Linked DNA regions of Homo sapiens. The protein of the gene in region 1 purifies or fractionates together with the protein of each later gene. This does not show direct contact. Each region holds a gene or a part of one and is shown in the gene's direction. Other genes may lie near its edges.

The links.
Region 2: the proteins of DCDC2B (region 1) and FAT3 purify together in Homo sapiens (affinity purification with mass spectrometry; 2 studies listed by BioGRID and IntAct, with this or other methods). This does not show direct contact.
Region 3: the proteins of DCDC2B (region 1) and PSMG4 purify together in Homo sapiens (affinity purification with mass spectrometry; 2 studies listed by BioGRID and IntAct, with this or other methods). This does not show direct contact.

Annotation. Positions count from the first base shown.
Region 1 is NC_000001.11:32,206,758-32,210,508, forward strand, and holds the start of DCDC2B (doublecortin domain-containing protein 2B), read left to right. Parts: upstream 1-2,331; 5' UTR 2,332-2,336; coding exon 2,337-2,602; intron 2,603-3,751. Other genes in the region: IQCC (IQ domain-containing protein C), read left to right, coding at 1-4, 245-363, 483-1,325.
Region 2 is NC_000011.10:92,794,693-92,798,443, forward strand, and holds part of FAT3 (protocadherin Fat 3 isoform 1 precursor), read left to right. Parts: intron 1-3,143; coding exon 3,144-3,751.
Region 3 is NC_000006.12:3,257,022-3,260,772, forward strand, and holds the start of PSMG4 (proteasome assembly chaperone 4), read left to right. Parts: upstream 1-1,925; 5' UTR 1,926-2,001; coding exon 2,002-2,175; intron 2,176-3,751. UniProt on the Homo sapiens protein: Chaperone protein which promotes assembly of the 20S proteasome.

The DNA of each region.
Region 1 (3,751 bases):
CCAGGTACCTCTCTGCAAAGATCAGGGCAAGCCCCTGACCCTCACTGTGCCTCAGCCTCCCATCTGAAGAGTGAAAGGCTTGCGCTAGATAAGCTGCATCCCTTTCCCGTCTTCCCTCTGCCGGGATAGGGCCACCACATGGTTGGGCAGTGCAGGGGAGGGAGTTTCCAAAGTCTAAGGCTAGGCCATTTCCCAGGGTCTGGTCCCTCAAGGTTTTCTCCTTCCTTTCTTCCCTCCTTCACAGAAGCCACAGATCAAAGACTGCCCCACAGCCAACCTCAGCTTCAAGAGCTTCAGTACCACCGCAGCCACTTGGCCATGGAATTGCTGTGGCTGCAACAGGCCATCAATAGCCGTAAGGAGGTAACACTAACCTGGAACTCTTTCTGAACATTTAGGGTCAAGGGTGGGGGTTAGGGAGAGACGACCTGCCATGCCCAAGCAGGCCTGCTTGGTACAATGTATGTTCTCTCCCCCAACAGTACCTACTTCTTAAACAAACACTGAGATCCCCAGAGGCGGGCCCGATCAGAGAGGAACCCCGCGTGTTCCTAGAACATGGGGAACAGGCCTGTGAGAGGGACCAGTCACAACCAAGCGCACCACTGGAGGACCAGTCCTACAGAGACAGGACCACTGGAGAGCTAGAACAGGAGGATGACTCCTGTCACAGGGTCAAATCACCCCACAGATCCCCAGGAAGTTTGGCCACTACACAAAAAAACATTGCTGGGGCTAAGTGCAGAGAACCATGCTACAGCAAGTCTGGACCACCGTCGTCTATACCATCAAACAGCCAGGCCTTGGGGGACAGGCTCACCAAAGGGCCAGACGATGGAAGACAGACCTTTGGAGGGACCTGCCTGCTGCAGATGAAAATCCTGGAGGACCAGACCCCCAGAGGTTTAAAACCTAGGAACCATTGTCCCAGGAAGTCCAGGACACAGCTGTCTGCACTCTATGAGGACTCAAATATTAAGGAGATGTCTCCCAGAAAACTAGACCACAAAGAGCCTGACTGCCGAACAGTCAGGACACAAGAGTTGGGCCTCTCAGAGGACCACATCATCTGGGATGGTACCTTGGGGGGGCCAGAGCATAGTGTCCTCGATCTCTGGAGGACTAAACCACCCAAAGGCCAGGCCCCCACTGATAGAAGCTCCAGAGATGGAACCTCCAATGAGCCTAGTCATGAAGGACAGAAAAAGCAGAGGACTATACCATGGAGATCAAAGTCACCTGAGATTCTGTCTTCTACAAAGGCAGGCTGTACAGGAGAGGAACAGTGGAGGGGCAGGCCATGGAAAACAGAACCACCTGGCTAGACCCTAGGAAGCCAGGAGAGGATCAGGTTCCAAAGGGGAATGCTATGAAAGGGCAGTGAGACAAGACCTCATCCTACCTCCCTGACCAGCTCTGGCTTCTGCTCCTGCCCCTGGCCATTGGTGACTAGTGGGGCCAAGAGAAGCTGGAGCAGAGAGCTGGCATGAGTATAGGGAAGGAGGAAGGACACATTTTCAATCCTCTGCCTGTAGCTCAATCCAAATTTGTGGATAAGGGGCCGGGTGCAGTGGCTCACACCTGTAATCCCAGCACTTTGGGAGGCCAAGGTGAGTGGATCACCTGAGGTCAGAAGTTTGAGACCAGCCTGACCAACATGGTGAAATGAAACCCCATCTCAACTAAAAATATAAAAATTAGCCAGGCGTGGTGGTGCATGCCTGTAGTCCCAGTTACTCGGGAGGCTGAGACAGGAGAATCGCTTGAACCCAGGAGATGGAGATTGCAGTAGGCCAAGATGATGCCACTGCACTCCAGCCTGGGCTACAGAGCGAGACACGGTCTCAAAAAACAAATGTGTGGCTAAGGAGTTACCTGGGGGAAGTAGAATGAGAGGTCTGTTGGGAATAAAGGTTTTTCTTAGATTCTGAGTCTGGCTGCTTTCATTTCTGCTTCTGGCCAGGACAGATTCTGGGCCCTGCCGTTCACTTCCTACTGGCATGGGGCATTGACCCCGGAGCCAGCTGGGAGCCATGGCCCAGGAAAAGATCTAGCCATCCTCCTTAGGGAACAGCTCCCAAAGCTGATCCCCAATTGAGCTCAGCCTTGTGCTTTAGAGTGGCAAGGAGGCTCTGGAGAGTAGGGTAACACCTATGTTTAAGTGTGATCTCCCCAGGGCAGATGGGATAAAACCCTGAATGCAGATAAATGCTCCTGCCACAGTCTCCCTCTGCCTTCCTGGGTGAGAGGGCAGGACTCCACCTCTGATTGGCAATGTTCCCAGCCCTTCCTTGGTTGCCTGGCAACAGGTCTGTTTCTCTGACTGAGGATACACTATGGCAGGTGGCAGTCCAGCAGCCAAGAGGGTAGTGGTGTACCGGAATGGGGACCCATTCTTCCCAGGCTCCCAGCTGGTGGTGACTCAACGCCGCTTCCCCACCATGGAGGCCTTCCTCTGCGAGGTGACATCAGCTGTGCAGGCCCCACTGGCTGTGCGTGCCCTCTACACACCTTGTCATGGCCACCCTGTCACCAACCTGGCAGACTTGAAGAACAGAGGGCAGTATGTGGCCGCTGGATTTGAACGATTCCACAAGCTCCAGTGAGTGGGCTGGGGCTGGTCAAACAGCCTAGCAAGGGAGGTAACGGCAAGAGCGTGTATTCAGTACCTACCATGTATGTACCAGCATGTTACTGGTACTTACTGAACTCTATGTAGGGGGGGTGGTTTTGCCTCCATTAGAAAGGGAAAACAGACAGAAAACCTGCCTAAAAGTACATAACAAATAGTTGAACTGAAATTCAAATAGAATTCTGTGTGTTACTAATGTTTATGCCCATCACAGCCAAGATCAGCCTGTGGGAAGACCACTCTCCCACAGGGTGAGCCCCTTTTTCCAAAAGCTCTTCTTGCTTGGACCCCCTATCACTGAACACTCTAAATCCACCCATCCATTCCTCCCCACTGTGCATAGGCATCCCAGACTCTCCCGTTAGGCTAGGGCCATCCTCTGTTGCAGGAGGAGACTGTCTCCCAGGGTGGGAGAAGAATTTGAGTACCTGAGTCTCTGACTCATGTCTGGCTTCCAGGTCCTACTCTTAGCTCTCAGCTGAGGTTGCTTACTATAATGTAAGGATCAAGAGGGAGTAAGTGGCTGGGCACGGTGGTTCACGCCTGTAATCCTAACACTTTGGGAGGCCAAGGCGGGTGGATCACCTGAGGTCAGGTGTTCGAGACCAGCCTGGCCAACATGGCGAAACTCTGTCTCTACTAAAAATACAAAAATTGGCCAGGCACGATGGCTCACACCTGTAATCCCGGCACTTTGGAAGGCCAAGGCGGGCAGATCACCTGAGGTCAGGAGCTCAAGACCAGCCTGACCAACATGGAGAAACCCCATCTCTACTAAAACTACAACATTAGCTGAGCGTAGTGGCGCATGTCTGTAATCCCAGCTGCTCGGGTGGCTGAGGCAGGAGAATCGCTTGAACCTGGAGGCAGAGGTTGCAGTGAGCCGAGATCGTGCCACTGCACTCCAGCCTGGGCAATAAGAGTGAAACTCCATCTAAAAAAAAAAAAAAAAAAAAAAATCAGCCAGGCCTGGTAGCACGTGCCTATAATCACAGCTACTCAGGAGGCTGAGGCAGAAGAATCGCTTGAACCCGTGAGGCGGAGGTTGCAGTGAGCTGAGATCGCACAACTGCACTCCAGCCTGGGGGACAGAGTGAGACTCTGTCTCAAAAAGAAAAA
Region 2 (3,751 bases), on another chromosome or scaffold:
ATAAAGAAAACCCAAACTTCCAGAAAACCATGGGAACAATTGATATCGCAAAAAAAATGACCTTTGATTGTATGTAAGAAACTATTGAGGATTACAATGTTCACAATAAATCTCAAATGACCAGCAGGGCTCTTCACAGACAGACAGACAAACCCACACTGGTCCGCACTGGTCCTAGAGGAGCAAGTTTCTTCCCAGTTGAGGGTGGGAGACAGGCAGATCCCAGATGCTTCAGCACTTTGAAGCAAATGACAAATGGCTGTGTAAAGTATTATGTTTTATTTAACTTTTCTCACACACATCAGATAAGCAAGATTTCACTCTGTTTATTGGTGGGCTATAAATTTCCTGTCTCCTGCCTGTCCTCTAAAGTAACTACGGAAGCTTTTTATTTTGGCCTGAAGGACTGAGGCAGAATTTGAGTGCAGAGCTTCAGGTCTTATATCTAGTTTGAGTTTTGTGTTTGGTGTCAATGGTGAGTCTGAGGCAGGATTGTACAAGAGAGACTGGGACTGAGTTGAGTTCGGGTGAGGGCATATGGATCCCAAGATGCATATGAATAGAGAGTTTAAAATATTTTTTTTAGATTTACCTCTCCTCTCAATCATTCAACAAATATTAAGCAACTTCTTTGTAGCAGATGCTGTGTTGTGTACTAGATAAGGAATGATAAGAAAAGCACAGCTTTTATTCAATTGCCAAAAATCTACAAGAGGCCATAGATTCCAAAAAACAAACAGAGGCCAATTTTTCAGGATTCAAGTGTAGCAGGAAAGAATAAGCAGGAAGTGGATTCCAAGAGAATGGGTCAGTGTGTCAAAGAGGGAAAGAGGAGAAGGGCCCACTTTGGACCTGATGTATCAGCACACCATTCTGGAAGCGTGTCACAAGCAGATCAGCGGCCATGGGATAGCAGGATTATGAATTTCTACTTGAGGCCAGGCACAGTGGCTCGTGCCTGTAATCCCAGCATTTTTGGAGGCCAAGGCAGGTGGATCACTTGAGGTCAGAAGTCTGAGACCAGCCTGACCAACGTGGCAAAACCCCGTCTCTACAAACATGAAAATTAGCCAGGTGTAGTGGTGCCTGCCTGCAGTCCCAGCTACTCTGGAGGCTGAGGCAGGAGAATCACCTGAACCCAGGAGACAGAGGTTGCAGTGAGCCAAGATTGCACCACTGCACTCCAGCCTGGATGACAGAGCGAGACTCCATCTCAAAAAAAAACAAAAAATTATATTTGAGGTCAAAAGCTGGCTCCCTGCCATCCCCACCATAATCTATCTTTCTGGGCATGAAGAAATCTGCCGGGTGTGGAGTGAGGGAGGACTTACCTAGAAACTCTGCAGTCGGGCACCATAATCAGTGAACACCGAGATCCCTGGCTCCAGTAGCATTCATCAGTCAGGGTTGCATGTTGGTGCCATCACTGGAAGGTGACCATTGCTTAGGTGAAGTGATTTCCCCTTATAAAGTTCTGTGGATCACCTGTTGGATTCACACTCAATTCTATGACACTATTCATTGCAAGCTTGAACGTTTACTCATAAGATCATTGAACTTTTTATTATTGTCATCACAAAATGGCCATGTTTAGGTGGCAAAGTAATAAATCATGCCGACATCAAAGACAACATTGTTTAATATTCACATTTGGGGGGGCTGGAATCAAAATGACCTCTTTATTAGATATACTTTGTCTTTTAAAATAAGCAAGTATCTTCTTGAAATAGATGTTACATGAACATGACCATTTTGTGTTCAGACATGGAAAACTTTATATAATTAGCATGTAGGAAGAGGTATGTAGACACATCTCATAACTGCCCTGAAAATCCTGGTCCCTATTTTAATGATTTTAACATTTAAATTATATACCTATCATACTACAATACTCAGAAAGAAAAGTCCAGATAGAGTTGAATAACCAAGATCTTTAACTTTTGATTGGAAAGGATCTCAACACAGAAGTATATGTGTTCTTTGAGAAGTATGAGAAAGCCTGATAAGAGAAGCAAAAAGCAACTTGGTGAGGGATGCAACTTCACACTACCCACTGCCTTTCAGCTCTGTCACCACCTACCTTCTTTACATACTCCACATTGTGTCTTCCCCATTTTTTATTCCTCTGTTATTTCTCTCATTCTCAACAATCCCAGATTTCGAACCACAACATGTTTCTGAAGCAGAGCTGTAAACTACTACAGTGTCATGGCCAGAGCCCTTCCCCTGCCAGCTCTATCAAAGTGGGGTGCCCAGGTTTCAGTTTCACAAGGATTATGTCTCAGGTTCTTGGTTGCAGTGCTGGTTCAGATTCCCAACAGTTTCTTGGTACACTAGAAACACCTCAAATGCTTGGTGAATAGAATGGTTACAGATTGAGCAACTGCCCTATAACTTTTTATGTTTACTTTTATGTCTAGATGTGTGCATGTGTGTGTTCAGAAGCATGAGAGAGGGGTAGAGCATGAGTGGAGAATAGAAGAGAAGTCAGGAAAATTCATCACACTTACAAGGCAAATAATGACTTGCCAAGAATTCTCCACACCTGACTGAACAAACCCCTTCACCAAAGTAGTGTTTTGGATAAAGTCATTTTTGATAGGGTGAAATAATACCAATTCCATGTAGCGAAGTTTGCTTTTGGGATAATCAGAAAACAACTGACTACTTTATAATGCTCTGAAACTATTCCCACAACCCTCTTTCTTTAAACCTAGAACAGAAAATATGACACTGCTACCTAAACCAGTGGCATTCATATGTGGGCTTCCCAATCTATCTGTCTTCTCACAAGGCTGGAAATAAGGAAGTCCTATACATTCTTAGCAGAAAGATCTCTCCTTCGGGCTCTCTTATTTCCCAACTTGAATGCACATAAGACTGTGTCATTGTCATTGTGTTTTTAACCTGGATCTAGAAGTTACTGATCTGAAATTTACTATAATACTGGGAAACTCATTTTGGTTCCTTTTCAGTACCCCTGAAAGAGAAGCCTCTCATTTTATTTCAGAATGACACAGATGAGTACTATAATTGCTTTCTACTTGCCACATTGCAGTAAGGTACCTATAGATAAAGAGTTAATCAAAAAGATTTCAGTGACCCACATGTAACTCATTTCACCATTGATTTCTGTATTTTAGGGAACACTGGGAACATGTTTAAGATCGAACCGGTCCTAGGCATCATCACCATTTGCAAAGAACCAGACATGACGACGATGGGTCAGTTTGTCCTATCCATCAAAGTCACAGATCAGGGATCCCCGCCAATGTCTGCTACTGCAATTGTGCGCATTTCCGTCACCATGTCTGACAATTCTCACCCCAAGTTCATTCACAAAGACTACCAAGCAGAAGTAAATGAAAATGTTGACATTGGAACATCAGTCATTCTAATCTCTGCCATCAGTCAATCTACCCTCATTTATGAAGTCAAAGATGGAGACATTAATGGGATCTTTACCATAAATCCATATTCTGGAGTCATCACCACTCAGAAGGCCCTGGATTATGAGCGCACATCCTCTTATCAACTCATCATTCAGGCCACCAATATGGCAGGAATGGCTTCCAATGCTACAGTCAATATTCAGATTGTTGATGAAAATGATAATGCCCCAGTTTTTCTCTTTTCTCAATACTCAGGCAGCCTAAGTGAGGCTGCCCCAATTAATAGCATTGTCAGGAGCTTGGATAACAGCCCACTGGTGATTCGAGCCACAGATGCTGACAGCAACCGGAATGCTCTG
Region 3 (3,751 bases), on another chromosome or scaffold:
GAGGGACATCTTTATCTTTCACTGTCACAGAGTGAGCAGAAGGAAAGATAGGGTCCAATGAAGATAAGCATTTTAGGAGAGGGACAAGGAGCTGGGAAAATCTGGCTTTGTCACCTCTATTTTCTGCATAACATCAGAAGCAAGGGCATCTGCTGAACTTGGGTTTGGGTCAGCTCAGGGTTTGGGGAGCATAGTCAAGGGGAGTGAGAGAGGACGCTGTCTAGGGACTGCAGGGCAGTGTTCCAGGGCCGCTGATGTTGGGCATGACTGGCTGTGACCCTCTGCCTGTGTGTTTCCCGAGCAGTGACAGCAAAGCTGGAGAGAGAGAGGAGCATTGAGGTTTTGAGACATGTATAACCAGTGAAACCATCATTACAATCCAGATTGAGAAATTTGCCATGCCAGCCAGGCCTTGAACTCTCCACCGGTCGGTAACTTTGTTTCCTTAATCTTTGGGTCCTCCTAGCTGATTGAAGGGCCTCAAATCACAAAGTAAAGGGATAAAACAATTATGGTGTAGCCATACAATGGAACACTGCTTAGTAATACAAAGACACAAGCCATTGACACACAAGCAGATGAACCCAAGATAATTATGATGAAGGAAAGAAGCTGGACAAAAAACAGTACATACTGTGTGATTCCACTGATACAAAACTCTGGAAAATGCAGACTAATCTGTGTGGCAGGAAGCAGATCAGTGGTTGGGGGCAGGAGTCATTACTGAGGGCAGGAGGGAGTACTGGACGCGTTCACTTTGTGGATTGTGATGATGATTTCACTGGCTATAACGTGTCAAGACTTCAATTTGTACACTATATATGTGCAGTTATTGTATGTTAATCACATTTTAATAAAGCTGTTAAAATATTGACCTGAAAATTAACTGTATTATTGAATCATCGATAATTAGCAAATAGAACTATGGAAAATGCCCTCTTAAATTTCAATTTAGTCAACTTAGATCTATTAGAGATTTTTAAAGCAGACCTTTTATAGTTCCAAGTTAAATCTCTAAAGTCAGTTGTAACAGAATCTGACAAAATGGGCTGTTTTCTTTTACCACCTTCTCTCTTAACCCATCAAGGCTTCCTTTTCTCAACTCTGTAATGTCCTGAAGTGTTCAAGGGGTCTCCCCATAGGTATGACAATGGGATGATTGGATGATTGTTGGTGCTTCCCATTAATCTCTCTTGAGATCCTTTCCACGTCTCCGAAAGGCACCTGTTCTTATTTGCATTTTGCAGATGAGGAAACTGAGTCTCAGAGAGGTTAAGGGGGTAGCCCGAGGCCATGTACATGACTGCAGCTTGGGACTCGGCGTCCAAAAGGGTGCCTGCCCATCCTCCTGCCAACTTAGTTGACACAATTTTCCTTTCTAAAGGCTTTCTCCCAATACCGTTGCCATTCTTAATTAGGGCTGGGTGCCGTCGAAGCCTCCTTGGAGTTAAAGGGCTGCTAGGAGGAGGAGGTGGGACGGGAGGTGGCCGTTCTCAGAGTGCTTGAAGAACTAATTAAAAATCAGTCTTTTTAAATTTTTAATTAAATTAATGTCTGTAGGGCGAAGTGTCACGGCCTGGGAGGACGGTGCGGCTGGCTTCAGCCCTTGAATGCCCCGCGTCAGTAATAATTAGGGGGTGGGGGGAAACAAAGCGAGGGTGAGTTCTGCTGGGCGCCCGTGGACTCCTAGAGGTCACTGTCGCACTCTGCTACTCAAGTGGGTTTCCCCAGCCCGTCCAGAGAGGTACTGGTGTGCGGGAGAGGCCAGCAAGACAACCAGGGACAGCTACTCCGCCCAGGGCCGGCAGCCGCCCCGCCTCGACCACGCCCCCAACCCAAGCCCGGGATCGCCCCTCCCCGACCACGCCCCTCACCCCCGCCCTTCCGGGGCCGAAAGCGAAAGCGCGCTCGGTCTCTCGGTGCTCGCTCCATCGGGTCTGGCGGGGCTGGCAGCGGCGAGGACCCGGGTCTGGCGCTGTGGGCCGGGAGCCGTGGGGCGGCATGGAGGGGCTGGTTGTCGCCGCCGGCGGGGACGTCTCCCTGCACAACTTCAGCGCGAGGCTGTGGGAGCAGCTGGTCCACTTCCACGTCATGCGGCTGACGGACTCGCTGTTCCTGTGGGTGGGGGCCACGCCGCACCTGCGCAACCTCGCCGTGGCCATGTGCAGCCGCTACGTGAGTGCCTGGCGGCCGAGGGTGCGGGCGGCGGGGCGGGGGCGCGGGGGCGCCGGGCCTGCGCGAGCTGCAGCCCCCCAGGCTTCTCTTGGGTCCACAGGGCGCCCTACTCCCCCGAAGCCCACCCGTGGGATGTCTTAGGAAGCCCGCGGGCGCCAGGGCCTGCACCACCTCGGGAGCTGCGCGCGGGCCCCGGGCCCCTCTCCTTGTCCCGCCGCCCCGCAGCTGCGTCCCGCACTGGTCTCTGTAGGTCAGAATGTCTTGGGTCTGTCCTCGCCACACGCTCGCTGGGGGACGCGTCTGCCTCGTAGCTCTCCTGCCATCTGGATTTTGAGCACACTGATAATTTTTTGGGGACTCTTGCGTCTCCACTGGATGTCTCAGGCATTTCGCACTAGGCACACATCAGGCTCTCTTCTCCAAACCTGCTCCCTCCTCCGCCTGACTGGCGCTGTGATGGCAGCTCCATCTTCCTGGCTGTGCGTTCAGAGCCTCGCAGTTGTCTTTGATTCCTCTTTCTTCACACTCCACGTGCTGAGTCCCTAGGCACTGCCGCCAGTCAAAGCAGACAAAACCCAAGCCGCCCTCACCTTCACCCTGCCGCGCTGGGCCAAGCCTGGGACATTATCATTTCCCCTCCTCTCCCGCCTTTCCGGCTTTGCGTGTCGCCGCCTGGTTTCTCCTGGTTTCCTGAGGCAGCTGTAAGAAAGTGCCACAGACCGCGTGGCTTAAAACAACAGAGGTTTATTCTCAAAGATCTGTAGACAAGGTCTCTCACTGTCACCCAGGCTGGGGTACAGTGTCATTATTATAGCTCACTGTCACCTCAAACTCCTGGGCTTAAGTGATCCTCCTTCCTCAGCCTCCCGAGTAGCTAGGACTACAGACATGTGCCACCATACCTGGCTAATTGTGTTTTTTTGTAGAGATGGGGGTCTCACTATTTTGCCCAGGCTGTTCTTGAACTCCTGGCCTCAAGTGATGATCCTCCTTCCTCAGTGAGCCCGACTCTTCTCATAAGGACATCAGTAATGTTGGATTAAGGGCCCATCCTACTCCAGTATAACCTTGTCTTAAATTGTATATATATATATATTTTTTTTTTTTTTTTTTGAAGCAAAGTCTTGCTCTGTCGCCCAGGCTGGAGTGCAATGGCGTGATCTTGGCTTACTGCAACCTCCGCCTCCCAGGTTCAAGCAGTTCTGCCTCACCCTCCTGAGTAGCTGGGATTACAGGTGTGAGCCATCACGCCGGGCTAATTTTTGTAGTTTCAGTAGAGCTGAGGTTTCATTATGTTGGCCAGGCTGATCTCGAAATTCTGACCTCGTGATCCGCCTGCCTCGGCCTCCCAAAGGCAAGCAAGTCCCTTTGGAAGTAAAGAATCTTTATGCTAATCTTTATCCTAAAGTGCCGGGATTATAGGCGTTAGCCGCCGCGCCTGGTCTAAATTACATCTTATTTACATCTGCAGAGACCCTGTTTACAAACAAGGTCACATTCATAGGTACCCAGAGGTTAGGACTTCAACATATTTTTTGGGGAGACACAATTCAGGCCACAACACTGCCTTGTAACC